7 linked regions of the Homo sapiens genome follow. The protein of the gene in region 1 purifies or fractionates together with the protein of each later gene. This does not show direct contact. Each region holds a gene or a part of one and is shown on either strand. Other genes may lie near its edges.

Evidence for each region.
Region 2: the proteins of KMT2E (region 1) and DDX50 purify together in Homo sapiens (affinity purification with mass spectrometry, with the first as the bait; one study listed by BioGRID). This does not show direct contact.
Region 3: the proteins of KMT2E (region 1) and RBBP6 purify together in Homo sapiens (affinity purification with mass spectrometry, with the first as the bait; one study listed by BioGRID). This does not show direct contact.
Region 4: the proteins of KMT2E (region 1) and SART1 purify together in Homo sapiens (affinity purification with mass spectrometry, with the first as the bait; one study listed by BioGRID). This does not show direct contact.
Region 5: the proteins of KMT2E (region 1) and DDX24 purify together in Homo sapiens (affinity purification with mass spectrometry, with the first as the bait; one study listed by BioGRID). This does not show direct contact.
Region 6: the proteins of KMT2E (region 1) and CDK11B purify together in Homo sapiens (affinity purification with mass spectrometry, with the first as the bait; one study listed by BioGRID). This does not show direct contact.
Region 7: the proteins of KMT2E (region 1) and SMYD3 purify together in Homo sapiens (affinity purification with mass spectrometry, with the first as the bait; one study listed by BioGRID). This does not show direct contact.

The regions. Positions count from the first base shown.
Region 1 is NC_000007.14:105,017,205-105,020,704, forward strand, and holds part of KMT2E (inactive histone-lysine N-methyltransferase 2E), read left to right. Parts: intron 1-3,500. UniProt on the Homo sapiens protein: Associates with chromatin regions downstream of transcriptional start sites of active genes and thus regulates gene transcription. Chromatin interaction is mediated via the binding to tri-methylated histone H3 at 'Lys-4' (H3K4me3).
Region 2 is NC_000010.11:68,939,315-68,942,814, forward strand, and holds part of DDX50 (ATP-dependent RNA helicase DDX50), read left to right. Parts: intron 1-1,745; coding exon 1,746-1,880; intron 1,881-3,500. UniProt on the Homo sapiens protein: ATP-dependent RNA helicase that may play a role in various aspects of RNA metabolism including pre-mRNA splicing or ribosomal RNA production.
Region 3 is NC_000016.10:24,567,066-24,570,565, forward strand, and holds part of RBBP6 (E3 ubiquitin-protein ligase RBBP6), read left to right. Parts: intron 1-77; coding exon 78-440; intron 441-726; coding exon 727-828; intron 829-1,679; coding exon 1,680-3,434; intron 3,435-3,500. UniProt on the Homo sapiens protein: E3 ubiquitin-protein ligase which promotes ubiquitination of YBX1, leading to its degradation by the proteasome.
Region 4 is NC_000011.10:65,964,734-65,968,233, forward strand, and holds part of SART1 (U4/U6.U5 tri-snRNP-associated protein 1), read left to right. Parts: intron 1-358; coding exon 359-485; intron 486-608; coding exon 609-714; intron 715-968; coding exon 969-1,046; intron 1,047-1,153; coding exon 1,154-1,253; intron 1,254-1,342; coding exon 1,343-1,485; intron 1,486-1,616; coding exon 1,617-1,823; intron 1,824-2,525; coding exon 2,526-2,650; intron 2,651-2,737; coding exon 2,738-2,853; intron 2,854-2,945; coding exon 2,946-3,088; intron 3,089-3,500. UniProt on the Homo sapiens protein: Plays a role in mRNA splicing as a component of the U4/U6-U5 tri-snRNP, one of the building blocks of the spliceosome. May also bind to DNA.
Region 5 is NC_000014.9:94,050,203-94,053,702, reverse strand, and holds part of DDX24 (ATP-dependent RNA helicase DDX24), read left to right. Parts: intron 1-575; coding exon 576-705; intron 706-2,240; coding exon 2,241-2,512; 3' UTR 2,513-3,500. UniProt on the Homo sapiens protein: ATP-dependent RNA helicase that plays a role in various aspects of RNA metabolism including pre-mRNA splicing and is thereby involved in different biological processes such as cell cycle regulation or innate immunity.
Region 6 is NC_000001.11:1,635,005-1,638,504, reverse strand, and holds the end of CDK11B (cyclin-dependent kinase 11B), read left to right. Parts: coding exon 1-5; intron 6-621; coding exon 622-743; intron 744-991; coding exon 992-1,097; intron 1,098-1,302; coding exon 1,303-1,424; intron 1,425-1,500; coding exon 1,501-1,608; intron 1,609-1,651; coding exon of another isoform or gene 1,652-1,706; coding exon 1,707-1,823; intron 1,824-2,023; coding exon 2,024-2,172; intron 2,173-2,378; coding exon 2,379-2,568; intron 2,569-2,648; coding exon 2,649-2,741; 3' UTR 2,742-3,280; downstream 3,281-3,500. UniProt on the Homo sapiens protein: Plays multiple roles in cell cycle progression, cytokinesis and apoptosis. Involved in pre-mRNA splicing in a kinase activity-dependent manner. Isoform 7 may act as a negative regulator of normal cell cycle progression.
Region 7 is NC_000001.11:246,497,280-246,500,779, forward strand, and holds part of SMYD3 (histone-lysine N-methyltransferase SMYD3), read right to left. Parts: intron 1-3,500. UniProt on the Homo sapiens protein: Histone methyltransferase. Specifically methylates 'Lys-4' of histone H3, inducing di- and tri-methylation, but not monomethylation. Also methylates 'Lys-5' of histone H4.

The sequences.
Region 1 (3,500 bases):
CATAGGAGGGAACACTGCCTGTGCCCGATGGTTTTCTTCATAGAGACCTTGGTCAGGTCTAGACAGACAAAGCAATTGAACTTATTTGGCTTCAAATGAAAAATACCAAGTTAGAAATTATAGGAAAAGCTGTCTTCAGTTTACTAGCTTTCTTCATATTGGCTTGCTTTATTGCTTTAGGTTTTGTTTCTTTTTGGTGGTGGTGGTGGGTGGTTTTTTTTTGTTTTTTGTTTTTTTTTTTGATGTTTTAGTTCCTGTAAAATGATACTGGCTTTTTTTTTTTTTAAGTATTGTACCTTATTTTGAATGGTTACTTTATAAATCACGAGGCTATAATTGTTTGTTTTTTGTTAATTTACTATGTGTGTTTTAAGTTAGGATTGTCTAGGCAAATTTATTAGAAGGTTAGGCATAATTTTTGTTCCCAGAGAGTTTTGAAAGAATTTGGTTCCTTGGGGGAAACTAGTCAAATGGTCTTTGTTCTAGGATAGCTGAGTTTGAAGGATTAGTTGTTTATCTGTTTAAGTGGATTTGTAGAGAACTATAATGTAATTGGAGAGTTAATTTTATTTTTAGAGCCTACATTTTGATCATACATCCTTTCGTTGTCAGTGTAAATGAAAGGATCTCTCTGATTCCAGTTTAAGTGTAGAGCCTTGACAGGTCTCCATTTCCCGTCAACTCTGTAAGACTGATAACTGCCCTACAATTTTGGCTCGTCTGACTTCCTCACAGCTTCCAGAGAGAAATCATTGCCATATATGCCCCCAGTAAGCTCTAGGACTTCTTGAGTCTATTGAGGCAGTAGGGAGAAAAGCTAATTAATAGGAGAAAAATTTCCCCTCAGTACATATCTTAGTGGTCTTAGGGAAATTATAATTTCTTAAATTGGCTTCTTAATTTCCAAGAATAATGTACTCGTTTTCATTCATCAATCTTCTAAAGAAACCTGTGGTTTAATTTTTAAAGGTGTGTTTTATGTAAACCCTAACAGCTCTGCATTTCTGGAAGCTACTACTACTGGGACTTAAATGTGTACAACCATAGTGTGTTTAAAATGTGTAAAACTAACAGAACTTTGAAGAGCTATCAAAACTGGTTAGGAAATACTAGTATGCAGTTTTCTCAACAGATGCTATTTTATGTTTACTATTTTAAAAATATTTTAATAATGTGTAAAAGCTTTTATCTCCAAAGGATTTGTTTTTAGCAGATGGTAGGTGCTTAATTATTTCTTGGATGTGAATCTTTTATTGAAGCAAACACATTTACATCTCAAATATGTAGGGTGATCAGGGACTGTTCCCTGTTATGTGTTAGAATAAATGTTAAATACTTGTATTCTGTGAGACTTGTTTCCCCCAATTTCATGATAGATTATCTATGAGACTTTTTAATATTGAAAATATAATTATTTTATGGTAAAATTAATTTTTATGTTGACTGGCAAATTAACGAGTGGAATACTATTTGAAATATTACTCTGTGAATGTTACTGGCTTTTAGGCTGGGTTTAAAATTGAAGTGGCTCGTATTTACTACCTGTTCTGTAATGTGCAGATGTTGGGAGGAGCCTTATTTTTTTCTTGACATTGAAAGAATAATTTTTTGTATTACCTACAAATTTACTTAACATGGAGGAACAGTATTTGTTGTTGAAATTGTTTTCTACACTAAACTGGAAGTGGATGGTATTTAACTAAAAATCTTGCAATTGCTATTAAACAATGAGTATTTTGCATTATATAAAATAAACAGTATTTTACTTTGTATAATATAAAATGAGTATTTTACTTTATATAAAATACTCTGTTTAATAGCAATTGCAATATTTTTAATAGCAATTGCAAGAGATAAGAATTAACCATATTATGATGCAAACAAATTGTTTTTTTGTTATTGTGAACTTCCATGCTAAGTGCTACATTAAAAATCAAATGAAGGTGACCCAGAGTAAGTTAATTAGATTTTAATTCATATCTTTAAGGATAAAAGAAGTTTTTATTAACCATTGGTAACTAGGATGCTTTTTACTTAAATCAGAGTCAGGAAAAGCAGTTGGTCTTATATTTCACGAGATAACATGTTTTCACTTGATATGAAATCAGTTCTTTTTTTCCCTCATGAACAGCTCATAATTGGATTTTATTTTTGGACAGAAAAACTTTTTTTATTGTTAGGTGAATTTTACAGTTTTATTGGAAATCTCGTTTGGTTATTTACCAAAACTATTTAAGCTTTTTGGGATGTTGGACATTTTCAATGCAACAGGTCAACAAAGAATTCTTTTTTGATGTGTTGCATTAAGATGCCATCAAAACAGACACTACGTCTTTTAATGAGTAAATAATTAACCTATAATATGTGTAAACTACTTGTTCATCATTTTTAATTAAAATATTTTGTATTTCAAAACTGTTTCAAATATGAAATCTGGGTTTAGAAAGGATCTGCATGCAGGTCAACGTGATAAGCAATGATCTATGTAGCTTTATTTTTACGACAATTGGACAGAGGTAATTTCTTAGCACCTCTTAGGCTGCTTAATTTAGAGTTAATCCAAAGGAAGAAACATTCCTTCAGAAGACTAGGACATATCAGATATTAATTATTAAAAATAGGCTGGGCACGGTGGCTCATACCTGTAATTTCACTACTTTGGGAGGCCGAGGCAGGCGGATCATTTGAGGTCAGGAGTTTGAGACCAGTCTGGCCAACATGGTGAAACCCCATTTCTACTAAAAATTACAAAAATTAGCCGGGCGTGGTGGCAGGTGCCTGCAATCCTACCTACTCAGGAGGGCGAGGCAGGAGAATTGCTTGAACCCAGGAGGCGGAGGTTGCAGTGAGCCGAGATTGTGCCACTGTACTTCAGCCTGGGCGATAGAGTGAGACTCTGTCTCAAAAAAAAAAAAAAAGTAAATAAGTAAATTAAAAAAAAAAATTCTTGGTCCTGAATTTTAATATTGAGAAAGATGATATTGTGTAATCACACCTGTGTAATAGCCAACTTGGTTGCAGCATTTAAGGTCATGCCTGTCTAGCATACGATAGTGGATTGAGTTAGTTTTGGTTTGTGGTACTTACAACTTTAAAGTTCACTTGGCCTGGCATGGTGGCTCACGCTTGTAATCCCAGCACTTTGGGAGGCTGAGGCAGGTGGATCACCTGAGCTCAGGAGTTCAAGACCAGCCTGGCCAACATGGTGAAACCCCATCTCTGCTACAAAAATTAGCTGGGCTTGGTGGCGGGTGCCTGTAATCCCAGCTACTTGGGAGGCTGAGGCAGGAGAATTGCTTGGACCTGGGAGGCGGAGGTTGCAGTGAGCTGAGATCGTGCCAGTGCACTTCAGCCTGGGCAACGAGCGAAACTGCATCTCTAAAAAAATAAATAAAGTTTATGTAATTATGCTGTCTCATGTTTTATCTGAGACCAAAAATGTTTAAATTTTTTCATTTATGTTGACTTTTGTTTTCATAGGGTATTTAAAATAATTTCCA
Region 2 (3,500 bases), on another chromosome or scaffold:
TTTGAGCTAAGAAGTACCTAAGAAGTTATTTAGTCTCAACTCTCATCCAATGAAGAATCCCTCTTTGGCAGATGGGTCATTTAATCTCTGATTAAATATCTTAGAAACAGGGTGTTAGTGGCTTTAAATTTCTTTCATGGGTTAAACCAAAATCCAGTCTTTATCAGGAATGTCCTATAGGCTTTTCCTCTTGCTATCTTCTTGACGTCATGTCTTATCACTCTCCCCTTTCTTATTTCAGCCACCCTAACCTATTTGGTTTTCCTCAGACATAAACTTAACTATTACACAAGGCCTTTGTACATACTTTCATTGTCTTGAATGTTCTTCCCCTCTAATAACCATGTTGCTTCCTCCTTTACTTCATTCTGGTCTCTGCTCAAATATCATACCAGAGAGGTCTTTCTTGATCACTCTAAAATAGCTTACTCCTCCCTATACTCTTTGTTCCCTAAGCCCTGCTTTATTCCTGTTCGTGACGCTTATTACTATATGATATTCCATATATTTGCTTTTTTGTTTACTGTGTACCCCCCCACCCAACCCCACATACAGGTGTAGGTACATGCACATGCACTAGAATTTACTGTCCATGAGAGAAAGGACTACTTACTGCTGAATCTCTAGCACCTAGTACAGTCTGTGGCACATACGTAGGGCGCACTCAATAAATATTTGTTTGCTGAATGCATCCCCATATCTTCTTAATGTTGATTCTTTTGCTGTTAGTGAAGCTTTACAGAACAAATAATTTTTGCTTATGTAACACTCCTTCAAAAGTTTAAAGAAATTGTTCAGGCATGGTGGCTTATGCCTGTAATCCTAGCACTTTGGGAGGCTGAAGCAGGCAGATCACTTGAGTCCAGGGGTTCAAGACCAACCTGGGCAACCCCGTCTCTACTAAAAATACAAAAATTAGCACGGCATGGTGGCACGCACCTGTAGTTCCAGATGCTTGTGGGGCTGAGGTGAGAAGACTGCTTGAGCCCAGAAGGTTGAGGGTGCAGTGAGCTGAGATCGTGCCACTGCATTCCAACCTGGGTGACAGAGCGAGACCCTGTCTTAAAAAAAAAAAAAAAAGGTTAAAGAAATTTATGTTGTATTTACTTTTTATTTTTTTTTTGAGACAGGGTCTAGTTCTGTCACCCAGGCTGGAGTGCAGTGGTGCAATCTCGGCTCACTGCAACCTCTGCCTCCTGGGCTCCTGGGCTCAAGCCTCCCAAGTAGCTGGGACTGTAGGAGTAGGCCACCATGCCTGGCTAATTATTATTATTATTATTTTTGTAGCAATGGTTATTTCACCATGTTGCCCAGGCTGGTCTCAAACTCCTGGGCTCAAGTGACCCTCCCGCCTCGGTTTCCTAAAGTGCTGAGATTACAGGTGTGAGCCACCACACCCAGCCAAGGTTTTCGTTCCAAGCTGACTTTGACTCCTTCAACATTTCCTTAATTCTTCACTACCTTGTTGTCTTTCTTGGCTCTGGTTTGCTTAATTCTTAATTCTCTCTTAAAGCATAATGGTTAGAATTAAATAGAGTCTTACAGCAATACATAGGATAGTACTTTCAATTATCTATAAACACTATTCTTCTAATAATGTAGTTTCAAAAAAATTTTTTAGCTGCAATGTTATACTTTTGGCTCATAAGAAATGCACAGTTAAGTCTTGAAGGATTATAGAGTTAGAATTTCATTGTACTGCTGCTGATTTATTTCCAAACATAATGTGGTTTTTATTCCTTAAGGGGTTTGTGACCATGACTCTGGAAAGCCTAGAGGAAATACAGGATGTCAGCTGTGCTTGGAAAGAACTTAACAGAAAGCTGAGTAGTAATGCAGTGTCTCAGATTACCAGAATGTGCCTCCTGAAAGGAAATATGGTAGGCTTTTCCAGACAATTAAAAAGCTTTTTAATCAACTACCCCAAATGTTTACAAACACTAGCAAATTTTGTTCTTTCTCTTTGAAGCCTAATGGCATGAATAATGCTGTTTTTTCTCTGTTAGTTTGTTTCCAGTTATAAATTTGGGGCATTATATATGTAACCCATTCCTCCAGAGCTGTAAGTCATTCTGTTCAGTTTGACTATCTAATACCCAAATTATCTAAGTTTCTGCCACATACTGTATGTGGTTGTGTACATGTGTTTATTCTCTTTTTATTTTTTAAATTTTATTTATTTACGACTTTATAGTGATGAGGTCTCACTATTTGCCCAGGCTGGTCTTGAACTCTGGGGCTCAAGTGATCCTCCTACCTTGGACTCCCAAAGTACTGGGATTATAGGTGTGAGCCACTGCACCTGGCCTTTTTGTATTATTATTATTATTATTTTTATTTTTGAGACAGAGTTTCACTCTTGTCGCCCAGGCTAGAGTGCAATGGCACAATCTCGGCTCACTGCAACCTATGCCTCCTGGGTTCAAGCAGTTCTCCTGCCTCAGCCTCCTGAGTAGCTGAGATTACAGGTGCCCGCCACTATGCCCAGCTAATTTTTGTATTTTTAGTAGAGATGGGGTTTCAGCATGTTGGCCAGGCTGGTCTCGCACTCCTGACCTCAGGTGATCCTCCCGCTTCTGCCTCCCAAAGTGCTGGGATTACAGGCGTGAGCCACCATACCCTGTCCATGTTATTATTATTGTGATTATTATTTGGTAAAGATGGGATTTTGCCATGTTGCCCAGGCTGGTCTTGAACTCCTGAGCTCAAGGGATTCACCTGCCTCAGCCTCCCAAAGTGCTGGGATTACAGGCTTGAGCCACTGCACCTGGCATGTGTGTTTATTTTGTAAGACTAAGTAGCTTATGATTGCAGTAGTTAAACAGCTCTATAATTTTGAGGACATGCAGTTTGGTTTTTAAATGGCCTGCTCTTTGTTGTTAATGAATTAATGATATGAATTAAATAAATACTTTAATACATTTATATAGCAAAATTAAAACTGTAATCTTGTGACTGATTTCTTCTAATGGTTTTGAAAAATGATGTTATGTTATTAATTTAACTTTACTGCATAGGTTCATTCTAGCTTGGAATTTATTAACTAGATTGTTTATTGCAAATAATCATCTCTCTCAAAGTTTAATATTACTTGCCTTGTAAAAGGATGTGGGGCAAGTATGAGACAAATATATACTTTCAGGAAAAAAATGTAGAGGGGAGGGAAAAAATAGCAAGATCCATAGGCCAAACTAGTTGCTATACTTGAGTATTAAATTAACTTTCAGCTTATTGACAACTAAGACCATAGAAGAAACATCTTGGGTTATATAATTCTTATTATCTAACAAACATTGCAGCTTTTTTCTTTTTTTTTTGAGACAGGGTCTCACCCTGTCACCCAGGCTGGAGTGCAGTGGCGTGATCTTAGCTCACTGCCACCTCCGCCTCCCAGGCCCAAGCGATCCTCCCACCTCAGCCTCCTGAGTAGCTGGGACTACAGTCATGCATCACCACACCTGGATAATTTTTGCATTTTTTTTGTAGAGATGGAGTTTTCC
Region 3 (3,500 bases), on another chromosome or scaffold:
TGGATAGAAGAGATAAGCTTACTTGTCTCAGATGACTTTAGTTTGAAGAAGTAATATCTTGGAATTTATTTTTCCAGAAGTATAAACCGTGGGCGACACCACAGCGAAAGATCACAGAGGACTCAAGGCCCGTCACTACCAGCAACTCCAGTCTTTGTACCTGTTCCACCACCTCCTTTGTATCCGCCTCCTCCCCATACACTTCCTCTCCCTCCGGGTGTTCCTCCTCCACAGTTTTCTCCTCAGTTTCCTCCTGGCCAGCCACCACCCGCTGGGTATAGTGTCCCTCCTCCAGGGTTTCCTCCAGCTCCTGCCAATTTATCAACACCTTGGGTATCATCAGGAGTGCAGACAGCTCATTCAAATACCATCCCAACAACACAAGCACCACCTTTGTCCAGGGAAGAATTCTATAGAGAGCAGCGACGACTAAAAGAAGAGTATGTATTCTAATTTGAAATTATTATACACTTTTTTCATTTTCTGATAATAACATTAAATAGGTGTCTGGAAACGTTTTCCAGTGTTTCCAGTTAGTATGAGAAATTCACCTAAAATTTAAACCAAAGCCATACAAGCAACTTCTCAGGGATTCCTAGTTTATAGTTTTAAAGTGGAAAACTAATGGCAATTTCATTCATTTCATTCATGATCTAATTACATTTGTCTTGTTAGTTTTCTTAAATGGTTTTTGTTAACTTTCACTCTTTAACTTTATTTTACTAGGGAAAAGAAAAAGTCCAAGCTAGATGAGTTTACAAATGATTTTGCTAAGGAATTGATGGAATACAAAAAGATTCAAAAGGAGCGTAGGCGCTCATTTTCCAGGTTAGTGTTTTGCAAGCCTTCACAACAGAATTACAAACGGGACTTTGAATATCCAGGGATTAGCTATGGATATAAAGAACATTGCACTTAGGAATTTTTCTGATTCGGTCTAGGTGTATAGAAGTGAAGATGTAGCTTATTTCCCAATATCTGTTCATTGAAATAATGTCTCAGTGTAAATTTTATTGTGTAGAACTAACAGTTGTGGGGATTAAATTGCCCTTGTCCCTTAAAGTTATTCATAGTATCAAATAATTGGGAAATGTTTTTGGAAGGAAAGAAATAGGGGAATAGCCAAAAAACAGTTCCCAGGACCCTTTTACCATAAGGCTACAGCTTCTTGCTGGAACATTAACCTGCGTAATTATGAAGTAGTAGTAGAATACAGATCGCTTTATTGATAGAAAAAGTGAATTATAAAAATTCCCTGGAAGTTTGTTTAAAAGACTTTATTTTTTAGCCTTACACTTGAAATGTGGTTTCTTTTAAAACTAGGCTGTTGGCCAGTATAGGACAAAAAACAGACTCCTACTTCAATATTCAGATAGGAAGTGAAATTTAAAATTAATTGACATTTTGTTTAATGTTAGTTAGCTCATATAACTCACGGTACATTAATGCACTTCACTCTAATTGTTAAGACTTCACTTTTGTTTTGTAACAAGTGATTGCTCCGATTTGTGTACTTTATTCCATTCCAGTAGAGGTCACTGTGCCTCTTTAATCATCTAAGATGAAATTTGATATAAAGATAGATGAAACCGTGAGGAAAGAATGCTAGAATCTGAGAGTCTGTGTTTTATTTTGTATGTATTTCTCAACTATCAACTATTGTTTTGTTTTGTTTTTAGGTCTAAATCTCCCTATAGTGGTTCTTCGTATTCAAGAAGTTCATATACTTATTCTAAATCAAGATCTGGTTCAACACGTTCACGCTCTTATTCTCGATCATTCAGCCGCTCACATTCTCGTTCCTATTCACGGTCACCTCCATACCCCAGAAGAGGCAGAGGCAAGAGCCGCAATTACCGTTCACGGTCTAGATCTCATGGATATCATCGATCTAGGTCAAGGTCACCCCCTTACAGACGCTATCATTCACGATCAAGATCTCCTCAAGCGTTTAGGGGACAGTCTCCTAATAAACGTAATGTACCTCAAGGGGAAACAGAACGTGAATATTTTAATAGATACAGAGAAGTTCCACCACCATATGACATGAAAGCATATTATGGGAGAAGTGTTGACTTTAGAGACCCATTTGAAAAAGAACGCTACCGAGAATGGGAGAGAAAATATAGAGAGTGGTATGAAAAATATTATAAAGGTTATGCTGCTGGAGCACAGCCTAGACCCTCAGCAAATAGAGAGAACTTTTCTCCAGAGAGATTTTTGCCACTTAACATCAGGAATTCTCCCTTCACAAGAGGCCGCAGAGAAGACTATGTTGGTGGGCAAAGTCATAGAAGTCGAAACATAGGTAGCAACTATCCAGAAAAGCTTTCAGCAAGAGATGGTCACAATCAGAAGGATAATACAAAGTCAAAAGAGAAGGAGAGTGAAAACGCTCCAGGAGATGGTAAAGGAAATAAGCATAAGAAACACAGAAAAAGAAGAAAAGGGGAGGAAAGTGAGGGTTTTCTGAACCCAGAGTTATTAGAGACTTCTAGGAAATCAAGAGAACCTACAGGTGTTGAAGAAAATAAAACAGACTCATTGTTTGTTCTCCCAAGTAGAGATGATGCCACACCTGTTAGAGATGAACCAATGGATGCAGAATCAATCACTTTTAAATCAGTGTCTGAAAAAGACAAGAGAGAAAGGGATAAACCAAAAGCAAAGGGTGATAAAACCAAACGGAAGAATGATGGATCTGCTGTGTCCAAAAAAGAAAATATTGTAAAACCTGCTAAAGGACCCCAAGAAAAAGTAGATGGAGAACGTGAGAGATCTCCTCGATCTGAACCTCCAATTAAAAAAGCCAAAGAGGAGACTCCGAAGACTGACAATACTAAATCATCATCTTCCTCTCAGAAGGATGAAAAAATCACTGGAACCCCCAGAAAAGCTCACTCTAAATCAGCAAAAGAACACCAAGAAACAAAACCAGTCAAAGAGGAAAAAGTGAAGAAGGACTATTCCAAAGATGTCAAATCAGAAAAGCTAACAACTAAGGAAGAAAAGGCCAAGAAGCCTAATGAGAAAAACAAACCACTTGATAATAAGGGAGAAAAAAGAAAAAGAAAAACTGAAGAAAAAGGCGTAGATAAAGATTTTGAGTCTTCTTCAATGAAAATCTCGAAACTAGAAGTGACTGAAATAGTGAAACCATCACCAAAGCGCAAAATGGAACCTGATACTGAAAAAATGGATAGGACCCCTGAAAAGGACAAAATTTCTTTAAGTGCGCCAGCCAAAAAAATCAAACTCAACAGAGAAACTGGGAAGAAAATTGGAAGTACAGAAAATATATCAAACACAAAAGAACCCTCTGAAAAATTGGAGTCAACATCTAGCAAAGTTAAACAAGAAAAAGTCAAAGGAAAGGTCAGACGAAAAGTGACTGGAACTGAAGGATCCAGCTCAACTCTGGTGGATTACACCAGGTAGCTGAGTGTAGGGGGTGGGTGTGGAACTTTGTTGGGAGAAGGATTTTCTTCAGTTTTATCCAT
Region 4 (3,500 bases), on another chromosome or scaffold:
GGGCTCCGCCTGCTCTCTGAGTTGGAGCTGTGGCCGTCGCATACTCACTCTGGCTGTGAGTTGTTAGATGGACTGGAAGATGTGCACACTTGCTGCAGACTGCGCTGTGCGGGGGTGGGTTTCTTGTTTTTCTTTAAAGCACGATTTGAGGGGCTTTGGAAGCCACAGAGGGTCCTGTTGTGCTGCATGGGTTGGCCAGGAGTGTGGGGACGAAGTGGGAGCAGGGAGGTGAAGGATTGTTCCTTCCTGTCCTGACCCCTTCTGGCCCCCTGAGCTGGAAGGGGGCAGGGTGAGTGGCTCCCTCCTCTCCCCACCAGCCATGGGCGGGCATAGCCTCACGTCTGGGCCCCCCTTCCAGAGGCGGGCACCAAGGAGGAGCCCGTGACAGCTGATGTCATCAACCCTATGGCCTTGCGACAGCGAGAGGAGCTGCGGGAGAAGCTGGCGGCTGCCAAGGAGAAGCGCCTGCTGAACCAAAAGCTGGGGTGAGGGGTCCTGGCCAGGGCAGGCAAGGGAAGGGCTGGGGAGGCCACCATCCTTGGCTGCCTCTTGAGTGGGGTGGGGAGCAGGAGCTGGGCTCCTTGAGCATCACTTTTTCCCCTCTTCAGGAAGATAAAGACCCTAGGAGAGGATGACCCCTGGCTGGACGACACTGCAGCCTGGATCGAGAGGAGCCGGCAGCTGCAGAAGGAGAAGGACCTGGCAGAGAAGAGGGTGAGCACCTGGGCAGCATGGGGTGGTCGCCTAGTGCTTCTGGTGGCCTGACGGCACTGAGGCGGGGGCCAACCCCAGAGAGGTGAGACGGGGCTTGGAGAAGGGAAGGGCCGTGGTCGGTAGCATCTACTTTGGATTCTCAGCAGCTTTCCTGCAAGGCCTGCCCTTTTTGCACTCCGCTTGGTAGAGCCCTGAGTGTTTTCTGGTGATGCTGAGTGGCCTGAAGTCCTAGGTCACCCCTCCCTGTCCCGTAGGCCAAGTTACTGGAGGAGATGGACCAAGAGTTTGGTGTCAGCACTCTGGTGGAGGAGGAGTTCGGGCAGAGGCGGCAGGTGAGGCTGCAGCAGGGGTGGTACAGGGGACACTGGTGGCCTTGCTACCGGAATCCCGAGGTTGGGTGCGTGGAGGGAGGTTCCTGACTCGCCGATTCTTCCCTTAGGACCTGTACAGTGCCCGGGACCTGCAGGGCCTCACCGTGGAGCATGCCATTGATTCCTTCCGAGAAGGGGAGACAATGATTCTTACCCTCAAGGACAAAGGTAATGCGAGCTGGGTGCCCTGGGTGGGGGCACAGCCTCTGCTGAGTTGCGGACAAGTGTGAATGGCCACTGCTCTGTGCTGCCCCCAGGCGTGCTGCAGGAGGAGGAGGACGTGCTGGTGAACGTGAACCTGGTGGATAAGGAGCGGGCAGAGAAAAATGTGGAGCTGCGGAAGAAGAAGCCTGACTACCTGCCCTATGCCGAGGACGAGAGCGTGGACGACCTGGCGCAGGCACGGCCTGGGCAGGCTGGGTGGCGGGGGCTGAGGTGGAGAATGTCGGGAATGGGGGCTCTGAGGAGGTGGTGGCTCAGTGGCTTTTCAGGAGCCAGCCTGGGTCCCAACCTGTACCTCTTGCCTTGCAGCAAAAACCTCGCTCTATCCTGTCCAAGTATGACGAAGAGCTTGAAGGGGAGCGGCCACATTCCTTCCGCTTGGAGCAGGGCGGCACGGCTGATGGCCTGCGGGAGCGGGAGCTGGAGGAGATCCGGGCCAAGCTGCGGCTGCAGGCTCAGTCCCTGAGCACAGTGGGGCCCCGGCTGGCCTCCGAATACCTCACGCCTGAGGAGATGGTGAGCCCTCCCGTGCCTTATACTCGGGGTCAAGATTCTCCCTCCCTCTGGGGCTCCTGCCCTGCCCGCAGGCACTGAGAAGACAGGGCGAGTATTTGTGTTCACAAAGCGCTTGGCCTCGCGGGTGAGCACTAAATGGCAACCGGGGGAGGCACCAGGTGTGGATGGGTCAGGGCTGCTGAGCCAGATGGGCCCCAGTCTGTTTCGGCTCTGCCATGCTGCCAGCTCGTGCCTTGGATAAACCATTTAACTGTGAGCCTGGGGCACCCCATCTGGAATGGCAGTGACAGGAGCCGCCTCCTGAGGTTGCTGTGAGGATGAGTGACAGCGTGGGTGAGGGGTGACTGGAGAGGTGTGCGTGGATTCTGTCCACAGGGTGACTGTGTGAACGTGAGGTAGACAGCTGGCGCGGTAGGCGTCTTCCTCAGTGGGTAAGAGCAGGACTCTGGAGCCAGACTGCCCAGCTCTCCCACCTAGGAGCTGGGCAACCTTGGGGAAGGTACTTAACCTCCCTGTGCCCCAGTTTCCCTAGCTCACCAGTGGAATTGAGATAGTAACCACCCCACATGTTGCTCATGTGTGGGAAGCGCTCAGGACGCTGGCTAGCACAGAGGAACACCAAAGAAGTGTTCACCCTCGAGGGCTTGTGGCGACCTGCCTTTCTGTGGCCCCCGCTCCATGTCTCGCCCCTCTTCCCTTAAGGTGACCTTTAAAAAGACCAAGCGGAGGGTGAAGAAAATCCGCAAGAAGGAGAAGGAGGTAGTAGTGCGGGCAGATGACTTGCTGCCTCTCGGGGACCAGACTCAGGATGGGGACTTTGGTTCCAGGTGGGCTTGGACACGGTGGTGGGGCGAGATGGCTGGGCTGGGGTGGCCTGGGGACCGGTGCTCACCAGAGAGGCCTCCTTCCCTCAGACTGCGGGGACGGGGTCGCCGCCGAGTGTCCGAAGTGGAGGAGGAGAAGGAGCCTGTGCCTCAGCCCCTGCCGTCGGACGACACCCGAGTGGAGAACATGGACATCAGTGATGAGGGTGAGGGCCCGGCCAGGGGGTGGGAGGGGCAGGGACAGGAGCCGCGGGTTGGAGGAGATGGTCTGAGCAGGCATCCCCTGTGTTTCCCCCAGAGGAAGGTGGAGCTCCACCGCCGGGGTCCCCGCAGGTGCTGGAGGAGGACGAGGCGGAGCTGGAGCTGCAGAAGCAGCTGGAGAAGGGACGCCGGCTGCGACAGTTACAGCAGCTACAGCAGCTGCGAGACAGTGGCGAGAAGGTGAGGCTGGGCATGGGCAGGGTGACTGCGTCAGCAGTCACCTGTCCTCACGAGCACCTGTGTCATAGGCGACAGCCACATTCCTGTCTGAAGCCTCTTTTCCATTTGTTTTTTGTTTTCTGGGTTTGTTTTTTTTTTTTTTTTTTGAGACAGAGTTTCGCTCTTTCGCCCAGGCTGGAATGCAGTGGCGCAGCCTCAGCTCACTGCAACCTCCGCCTCCCAGGCTCAAGTGATTCTTATTCCTCAGCCTCCTGAGTAGCTGGGATTACAGGCGCACGCCACCAGACCCGGCTAATTTTTATATTTTTAGTAGAGACGGGGTTTCACTATGTTGGCCAGGCTGGTCTCCAACTCCTGACCTCATGATCTGCCTGCCTCTGCCTCCGAAAATGCTAAAATTACAGGTGTGTGC
Region 5 (3,500 bases), on another chromosome or scaffold:
AGCTGGGATTACAGGCATGCGCCACCATGCCCAGCTAATTTTGTATTTTTAGTAGAGACGGGGTTTCTCCATGTTGGTCAGGCTGGTCTTGAACTCCTGACCTCAGGTGATCCGCCCGCCTTGGCCTCCCAGAGTGCTAGGATTACAGGTGTGAGCCACCATGCCCGGCTCAAGAGCTTTTTAAAAACACTACTTGCTGGGCACGGTGGCTCACGCCTGTAATCCCAACACTTTAGGAGGCTGAAGTGGAAAGATTGCTTGAGCACAGGAGTTCAAGACCAGCCTAGACAACACAGTTGAGACCCTGTCTTTACGAAAAAAAAAAAAAAAAAAAAAAAAAAAAAGAAATTACCTAGGCATGGTGGTGCCTCCCAGCTGCTTGGGAGGCTGAGGTGGGAGGATTGCTTGATCCAAGGAGGTTGAGGCTGCAGTGAGCCATGATCATGCCACTGCTCTCCAGCCTGGGCAGCAGAGTGATACCTGCCTTAAACACACAAACACAACTCAAGTGAGACTTTGCTTCCCAGAGGCCTGAACTCTATTTCAGATGAATATTTTCTGTTACTTCCCCCCAGGAGCGAATCCGTTTAGCTCGACAGATTGAGAAATCTGAGTATCGGAACTTCCAGGCTTGCCTGCACAACTCTTGGATTGAGCAGGCAGCAGCTGCCCTGGAGATTGAGCTGGAAGAAGACATGTATAAGGGTAAGCCCTTGGGCGGGATGGGAATTGAGGAAGTTGAAATCTCTCTTTAACTTTTGCTTTGTTGGAACCATCTCTACTACTGTGGGTCTTGTCAAAATCAGCAAGGCGTCCTTCCCCCTCTTTGCTAACAGGCCCTGGTCCCAGGTGAGCCTACTGCCCTCGGTCAGTCTTTGTTTCCTCTGTCTCTGTCTTGTGCCCTCAGCTGCCTCCTCTTACATGGACAGGCAGTGGAGTACAGTGAGGAAGGGAGCAGGCTCTCTGGCCAGGCTGCCTGTGTTAGAATGCCGGCTCATTGCCTTAACTATGTGACTGAGTCAAGTTATTTAACCTCTGTTGTGTTCTCAGCTTTCTCCTCCATAAAATGGAAGTAGTCAACTACCTACTTCATGGGATTGTTGTGAAGACTGATTGAGTTAAAAAATGTTAAGTGCTTATAGCATTGCCTGGCAAATAGAAAGTATTACATTTTAAGTTATTTGTCATTATGGTTCCTACTACACCTGCCTTCCAAGCTGACAAAGCACTTCCATGCCATTATCTCATTTGATCTTCTCCACTTTCATGACATGAACACAGCAGGAAGTACTCTTCTTTTACATATGGAAACTAGATACCACAGCAGAGGCAGTTTGTGCAGGGAAACAGCTCTGTCACAAGGCATTTCCAGAGCTGCTACTCTATATGTGACCACAGGCTGAGGCTTCAGGGATGAATCTGCCCGGTCCCTGCTTGAGAAAACTCCTGGTCTAAAAAGTGGTAGAACCAAATCTAGAACTCCATGCTCCTTCCACACCACCAAGTATGCAGCTCAGCAGAGATGTTGACACCTCGGTGCCCAAGTCAGCAAATTCAGAGGCAGACTTAACTGCTGTCTGCTCAGCATGGAAGCCAGGAGCCAAACCAGTGGGCTTGATGACAGTGAGCTATTTCTGGTGGCTCAGGGTTGGGGCTTGGGCCGAAGATGTGGAGGCCCTGGCTTCCCTTCCTGAGGACAGACTGAGGTGGAACCTTTTGGCTCTGCCAGCTTCTCCATGTGCAGTCACAGCACTGGTGGCAAGGCATAGGAGAGCTGGGCTACAAAGAAGCATTCAGTGTCTCCTGGGGCGGCAGGGAGGTGGGGGTTGTAATTGTGAACTCACCAAACCCCAGGTGGGCAGTAAGTGGGTGGGTCATAGGAAGAAAAGTGATCTTCAGTCAGGAGACTTGGGTTCTGGGCTCTGTCTGATGACTGGCTCTGTGATGTGAGCCAGGTGACTTCTCTAACCCTGAGTTGCCTCATCTGTAAAGATAATTCCAGTCTTGGAGGATTTTTATGGAGTAAAAAAGGACAGAGCGGTCCTGTGTATCCCCTGCAAATGGTTAGACGTTATCCATTTACAGCCCCTGCCAAGCCACCACTAGCTTCTTCAGAGAACTTTTGAACCCTGCCTCCCTAAAGTAGTTCTAAAACATTTTTCACTGTGTTACCCATCAAGGGAAACAAAATGTTTCTACAAACCATAGTAAATAGGATCGTTTTTGTATTGTGTTTCAAGGAGGAAAAGCTGACCAGCAAGAAGAACGTCGGAGACAAAAGCAGATGAAGGTTCTGAAGAAGGAGCTGCGCCACCTGCTGTCCCAGCCACTGTTTACGGAGAGCCAGAAAACCAAGTATCCCACTCAGTCTGGCAAGCCGCCCCTGCTTGTGTCTGCCCCAAGTAAGAGCGAGTCTGCTTTGAGCTGTCTCTCCAAGCAGAAGAAGAAGAAGACAAAGAAGCCGAAGGAGCCACAGCCGGAACAGCCACAGCCAAGTACAAGTGCAAATTAACTGGTCAAGTGTGTCAGTGACTGCACATTGGTTTCTGTTCTCTGGCTATTTGCAAAACCTCTCCCACCCTTGTGTTTCACTCCACCACCAACCCCAGGTAAAAAAGTCTCCCTCTCTTCCACTCACACCCATAGCGGGAGAGACCTCATGCAGATTTGCATTGTTTTGGAGTAAGAATTCAATGCAGCAGCTTAATTTTTCTGTATTGCAGTGTTTATAGGCTTCTTGTGTGTTAAACTTGATTTCATAAATTAAAAACAATGGTCAGAGCCATTGTGTCATCCTGATTTTTTTTTTTTTTTTTTAGATAGAAGATGGGGGTGGTGGTGTAGTTTGTTTCATTATTAACTTAGTGATTCTCCTGGGCCAGCACAGTGCTAAGCCCTTGAAAGGACAGGAATAGTGTCAGGCCTCTGGCTGCAGGCCAAGATTGGACAGTGTGAATGGAGCAAGAGGCTGGAATGTTCAAGAGGTGCATGTTCCTGCTTTACCCAGAGCAGCACCCTAATAGCTCCTTAGCTCTCTCCACTCTCCTGGGTATTGTCTGAGCCACCGTGGGAGGTGGGCAGGGATGAGGTTGCTGTCTTCAGGCTTCCCTCACATCACAGAGCCAACAGTAACAGTCGCTAGGTCTGGCGTGTGAAGCCCTCAGGATCTAGCCCCAGCCTTGTCTCCACTCCCTCCTGTTTGACAGAGCAGGCTCCTGCCCACGGTTCCATGCACCCCTTCTCTTGTCCTGAGCCTTTGTGCAGAATAGGCTTTTCCCTCGGTCTGGATTGCCTTTTGGCCTTCTCCATCCTGGAGCACTGCCATGGGTCCTCTAGTCCTGAGCCTCTAAGGGGAAGCAGTGCTTCTCCTGGGGCTCCCTTAGTGTCCCGTGCTTACCCTCTTCATAGCACTTGCCATGCTGTGTTCCCTTAGCTGAGCTCCTTGGGAGAAGAGGAACTCAAGGCTTGGTCAGCCTGGTATAAATATGTGCTCAGGGAAC
Region 6 (3,500 bases), on another chromosome or scaffold:
AACAGGTGGGTGGGGTCCCCTCACCCCACAAAGGCAGGGGAAGTGGGGCAGGGGCTGGCTGCCCGAGAGCTGCGACTGCACCTGGGCCCGCCTCACCTGAGCAGCTACTGGAGGTTGGACCCCTCAGCACCTCTAGAAGCCAGAGGTCAGCCTGGCCCTGGGGCTTTGCCACTCCCTTGCAGTAGCAGGCGGCCTGCCCCACAGGGCCGAGGCCCAGCGCGTGGAGTGGTCTGTGCCGGGGCTGGTGTGCAGGTTTGCGTTCCCAGCGTCCCACCCAAGCAGGTGTGTGAGCCGGGAACTCTGTTGGGAGTCGGCCACTGGGATCCCAGGTGAGGCCGGCTCTGTTGGGGAAGTCGATGTGGAGTCGGCGTGGCCGCTGGGATCCCAGGTGGCTGTAGGTGGCTGTGAGTGTCTGTGGTGTGTTGAGTGGGAAGCCGTGGGTGTTGCCCAGACCTCAGCTGGGGCGTTCTCCTGGTGCCCACGTGCCCCCACCTAGAACGAGACCCCCCTCCGTGAAATGCTGGCGCTTTGGGCACTGCCTGCGGTCCTCACTGAACGAGTCCACTGTTGGTACCGTGACTTTGAGAATGCCTCTCAGTGCCGTCTGTATTTTCTTCACAGATGAAATTGTGGCTCTAAAGCGGCTGAAGATGGAGAAGGAGAAGGAGGGCTTCCCGATCACGTCGCTGAGGGAGATCAACACCATCCTCAAGGCCCAGCATCCCAACATCGTCACCGTTAGAGTGAGCATGGCCCCACCACGCCTGGCCCCGGGTGGAAGGCTTTTCTGACAGGGCCCCGTGCTGTCCTGGGGCCGGGTGCTTCCTACACTCTCCTGCACTTAGTGGAGCCCTTCACAGACCACACAGAAGCAAGCATTTGCCTCCCGGGTGGCACCGGAGGTCCTTACTGTCCCTCAGCAGCTGCACCCGGGTGCAGGGGTGGGTGGGGGCCTGGAGGTGCCCAGCACCCACAGAGCCGTGCCCTGCAGGAGATTGTGGTGGGCAGCAACATGGACAAGATCTACATCGTGATGAACTATGTGGAGCACGACCTCAAGAGCCTGATGGAGACCATGAAACAGCCCTTCCTGCCAGGTACAGCCGCGCCCCAGGGGCCTGTCTGCGTACAAGTGGGGGCAGGGTCCTGGTCACCCCCGCGGTGACAGTGCTGCAGGGAGGGCCAGCTGCATCCACAGGGAAAGCCCTGAGAAGCCTCTGTTGCTGCCGAGGCGAGTGGGCCACCCTGAGTGCCCTGGGCTGGGGGCAGCCAGGTCCACATGGGAGCTTCCCTCCCTCCCAGGGGAGGTGAAGACCCTGATGATCCAGCTGCTGCGTGGGGTGAAACACCTGCACGACAACTGGATCCTGCACCGTGACCTCAAGACGTCCAACCTGCTGCTGAGCCACGCCGGCATCCTCAAGGTGAGCCCCCCTCCGAGTGGCCCATCCCAGGGAGACCTGCCGGGGCCCACTCACAGCCGCCCATCTGTCGTTGCAGGTGGGTGACTTCGGGCTGGCGCGGGAGTACGGATCCCCTCTGAAGGCCTACACCCCGGTCGTGGTGACCCTGTGGTACCGCGCCCCAGAGCTGCTGCTTGGTGCCAAGGTGAGTCCTGGGCGTCTGAGTGCCTCCCCTGTCCCCCACGCAGCCTCCCACAGCTTCGCGGGCACTGGCCCTCCTGAACACCTCTCCTGACCTCTTAGGAATACTCCACGGCCGTGGACATGTGGTCAGTGGGTTGCATCTTCGGGGAGCTGCTGACTCAGAAGCCTCTGTTCCCCGGGAAGTCAGAAATCGATCAGATCAACAAGGTGTTCAAGGTGGGTCTGGCCCTGCTGCAGGTGCGCTGTGGGGTTGTGGAGGAGTTGCAGGAATGGGGCTGCGGGGCGCACAGGTGCTGGGTTGAGATGGGGACCAGGGCCACTGAGAGCCCTCCTGGTGGCTTGTCTTCTCTGACGGGACACAGGTGCCAACACTGTGGGCCACTTGGTGTGGCTGTTGAAGCACCTCTGTCTTTCAGGATCTGGGGACCCCTAGTGAGAAAATCTGGCCCGGCTACAGCGAGCTCCCAGCAGTCAAGAAGATGACCTTCAGCGAGCACCCCTACAACAACCTCCGCAAGCGCTTCGGGGCTCTGCTCTCAGACCAGGGCTTCGACCTCATGAACAAGTGAGCCCAGTGCAGCCGGGTGGCGGGAGGTCCCGAGCCATAGCGGTGACTTCCCAGTCCCAGGCCTACCTGCTGGCTCACCACGTTCCAGAACTGCTCTGGTGCCTGGCGTCCCATGCCCTGAGCCCCGTCCCAACACAGCCCATCTTTGGGGGACCCAGTGGAGCACACGAGCACCTCCTGGGCCTCTGGCCCTCTCCCCCCAGGTTCCTGACCTACTTCCCCGGGAGGAGGATCAGCGCTGAGGACGGCCTCAAGCATGAGTATTTCCGCGAGACCCCCCTCCCCATCGACCCCTCCATGTTCCCCACGTGGCCCGCCAAGAGCGAGCAGCAGCGTGTGAAGCGGGGCACCAGCCCGAGGCCCCCTGAGGGAGGCCTGGGCTACAGCCAGCTGGTGAGGGGCCTGGCGGGTGGGGCGTGCCCACAGGTGGGGCTGGCTTGGGCAGGGTTCTCACGGTAGCCGACTCGTCCCAGGGTGACGACGACCTGAAGGAGACGGGCTTCCACCTTACCACCACGAACCAGGGGGCCTCTGCCGCGGGCCCCGGCTTCAGCCTCAAGTTCTGAAGGTCAGAGTGGACCCCGTCATGGGGAGAACTCAGCCGGGACCACAGGCGTGGCTACTGCGGCTGGAGCTGCGATGAGACTCGGAACTCCTCGTCTTACTTTGTGCTCCATGTTTTGTTTTTGTATTTTGGTTTGTAAATTTGTAGAATTAAATCATTTTCCTTGTTGTGGAGGAAAGAGCTGTGTTTTCTCCGTGACTTGCCCAGGGCGGAGAGGGTGGACATCTTCGGGTGCCCACGTGGGGCAGCACAAACCTCCACACACCCTCTCCCACTCTCGACACGCACGGGGCTGGCTGGGCCGTGATTTGGAAAGGAACTGGTGGGAGCCGGGTGGATTGTTTAATCTTCGGAGCTGGAGACCTGTTTCTGTGTTGGGATGAGCGATGCCCTCTTGCCCCAACCCACTCGTCCAGACCAGCCCTGTCCACACAGGCCCCCGGCCCCCAACCCCCAGCCCCAGCTGTGCCAGCAGACTCGACAGGTTTTTATACAAGGTTGTTGAGTTTTAAAATGTATTAAAATATTCTTCGAGGAAAGCTCCCCGTGTCGTCCTTTGAGTGACCCGGGACCATGTGTGGGAGGGGAGTCGCAGACCACCGGGCTCTAGGGGAAGAGGGTGGGGTGGGCGGCTGTGGCCTCTGACCCCATGTGGGCCAGTGTCTTCCCCAGGCAGGAGGGGAGCTCCTACCTCCTGGGGGGCCTCCACTCTGGCAAGGTGGTCCCCCACCCTGTGCCAGTCCTCCCAGCCCCCACCCAC
Region 7 (3,500 bases), on another chromosome or scaffold:
TCATTAGTGAGTTTTATATAGATATTTATGACAAAATTTAACTTGTTTGCCCTTTTTTGGTCTAATTCAAAATAAGAGTTAATGGCAAATGTCAGAGGCTAAGAACAGTTTGGAAAGGGGGTTCATGAAGGAGACCACTCAGAGACAGTGTTTTAGTGGCTAAAAAATAAGTTGCCTTTCTGAAAAATATTTGTATGCTTTTTACTCCATTGTCCACCAGAGGGAGCATCACATCTGATTAAGAGATAATGGGGAACTCCCAGATAGAAATGGAAAATCATCTGAAACTTGATCTACGAGGTGCTACAGATGGTAGCATATACAGTTAAATGTAAAATCAAATCAGAGAACCCCCAAAAGAATCTCAAAGTGAGTGGGAGGACAGCCTCCTAGGGAGATCTCATCTCTAAAAAAAAATTTTCTTTTAATTAGCTGGGTATGATGTTGCACGCCTGTGGTCTCAGCTGCTCAGAAAATTCTGGAGGCTGAGGAGGGAGGATCACTTGAGCCCAGGAATTCAAGGCTGCAGTGACCTATGATCAAACCACTGCATTACAGCCTGGGTAACACAGGGAGACCCCAGTCTCTAGAGGAAAAAAAAAAAGAAAAGGAAAAAACAAGAAAAATGAGCAAAAGATAAATACAGACAAATCACAAAAAGATATAAATATGGCCTTTAAACACATGAAAAGATGTTTAACTTCACCCATAATGCAATTTAAATGCAAATTAAAACTATACTAAGATCCCACTTCTCACCCATAAGCTTAGCAAAAATTCAAAAGTTCAGGCTGCAAAGCTAAGGGAAACAAGTACTCACATACATCATTAGTGGGAATGCAAAATGGTACAACCCCACATAGGTATTTACACCTTGACCCAGAAATCCCATTTTGAGGAATCTACCCTGAAGATACACCAGCAACAATATAAAAATACACACATGCAAGGTTATTCATTAGAGCAATATGCACAATTGCAAAATACTGGAAATTGCCTAAATATCCACACATAGGAAATTAGAAAGTACAGTGGATACATAAAATTGAGCATTATGGAGCTATAACGAATAAGGAAGATCTCCATGAACTGATAGTAGAGTGATTTCCAGTAGACACAAAGATAATGAAGCAAGTGCAAAACTAAGAATGGAAAATAAGAACACACATATAGGCCGGGCACAGTGGCTCACGCCTGTAATCCCAGCACTTTGGGAGGCCGAGGCGGGTGGATCACGAGGTCAGGAGATCGAGACCATCCTGGCTAATGGTGAAACCCTGTCTCTACTAAAAATACAAAAAATTAGCCAGGCGTGATGGCGGGTGCCTGTAGTCCCAGCTACTCGGGAGGCTGAGGCAGGAGAATAGTGTGAACCTGGGAGACGGAGCTGGCAGTGAGCCGAGATCGCACCACTGCACTTTAGCCTGGGCAACAGAGCAAGACTCCGTCTCAAAAAAAAAAAAAAAAAAGAACACACATATATACTTGCTTATCTTAAAAAGAAAAAATATAAGATGAACCAGACGCTACGGTCTGAATGCTTATACCCCCCAGGCTGGAGTCCAGTGGCACGATCATGGCTCACTGCAGCCTTGACCTCCTAGGCTCAAGTGATCCTCCCACCTCAGCCTCCCAAGTAACTGTGATTACAAGGGTGCACACCATCCCACCCAGATAATTTTTTGTTTTTTTTTTTAACAAGATGAAGTTTCCCTATGTTGCCCAAGGTGGTTGTGAGCTCCTGGCCTCAAATGATCCTCCCACCTCGTCCTAACAAAGCACTGGGATTACAGGTGTAAGCCACCACTTGATTAAGCCAGACTTTAGAGAGACATGAAAAAAATGTAAAGCAATGCAATTCTCATTAAATTTTCGTTGTTTTAAAAAATACACACGGGCCTATAGTCCCAGCTATTCGGGGGACTGAGGCAGGACAATCGCTTGAACCCAGGAGGCAGAGGTTGCAGTGAGCCGAGATTGTACCACTGCACTCCAGCCTGGGCAACAAAGCGAGACTCTATCTCAAAAAAAGAAAATATAGTTTGATTCCTTAAAAAATTGTTACAACATAATAAATTTACATATATGTAACAATTTTTTAAGTAACCAAACCATCAAATATACACACACACACACACACACACACATATATATATTTTTGTTATTGTTGTTTTGTTGTTGTTGGGTATTTTTTGGAGGCAGGGTCTCACTGTGTCACCCAGGCTGGAGTGCAGTGGCGCAGTCTCAGCTCACTGCAGCCTCCACCTCCCAGGTGCAAGCGATTCTCCTGCCTCAGCCTCCAAAGTAGCTTGATTACAGGCATGCACCACCACATCTGGCTAATTTTTGTATTTTTAGTAGAGACGGGGTTTCGCTACGTTGGCCAGGCTGGTCTCAAACTCCTGGGCTCATGTGATCTGCCCACCTCGGCCTCCCAAAGTGCTGGAATTACAGGTGTGAGCCACCACGCCCTGCCTTAAATTTATGTTTAAATAGGTATTTTCAAAACTTAGTTTTAATTTTTATGCAATAAATATAAATAGATAAAACCCACATAAACAAAACATCATCAGCACTCTCAATAACGTTTTTTAAATCCCTATCAAATCCATTTTGATAATTTGTAAAAGGATAAAGGGGTCCTGAGACTAAAAGGTCTGAGAACCACTGGTCTATAACACCAGCTGCCTTAAATGCCAGAGTATGTTAAGAGCAGGGGCTGGGGCTGGGGACTGTATCGCTTCTGTTGCCTGATAATGCTGGATTCTGCACTACCATCACCACAGACACTGGGCCCTGCTGCTGCTGCTGCTCCTTGGGAAACTGGTTGTTGCTGGAGAGTGATTCTCTCAACCATTCTTCTTTGTGATACTGGCTTTTATTCAAAGTCCTCAGAGAGCATCTTAGATTGACCGAACTTAGGTCACTGCCCGCACCCTAGCTGCAAGGGAGGTTGAGAAGGTATTTAGCCTTTTTGGCTTTTTCGATAGAAGGCAGACTTGGTCTACATCCCACCAATAGTCTTCCAATGAGGAAATCGGCAAACATAAACAGTCAAAACCACAAGCATTAGCCCATTGCTCTAATTCTTTCTGGGAAGGTCAGAGGCAACCTTGTGGGGAATATCACAGCTCTATCAAAGATTCTCAGTGGATCTTAGAGATGGTGGTATTACACACAGGGAAGACAAATCCAAGTACAGGAAAAAAATTGATATTCCAACTGACTCCTCCATGACAAAAAGTTCTACCATAATAACCCGACACAAGGTGGCTGGCTGGTCCTGAAGATGTGTTGCCATTTGGGGAATCAGGACCAGTTACTACTGGCAGCAAACTGGGCACTCTGTACCAGCAGAAGCCACATGGCTATCATGAGGGGAAGTCTGTATTGTTGAGTTCCAGGCACCAGCCTCTATCCCCGTCCCCATGGTTGCTCTGTTCTTGAGCCTTTTGAGCAAGCACCAGGCTGTCTGAAGAACAACTTACTGCTATCCACAA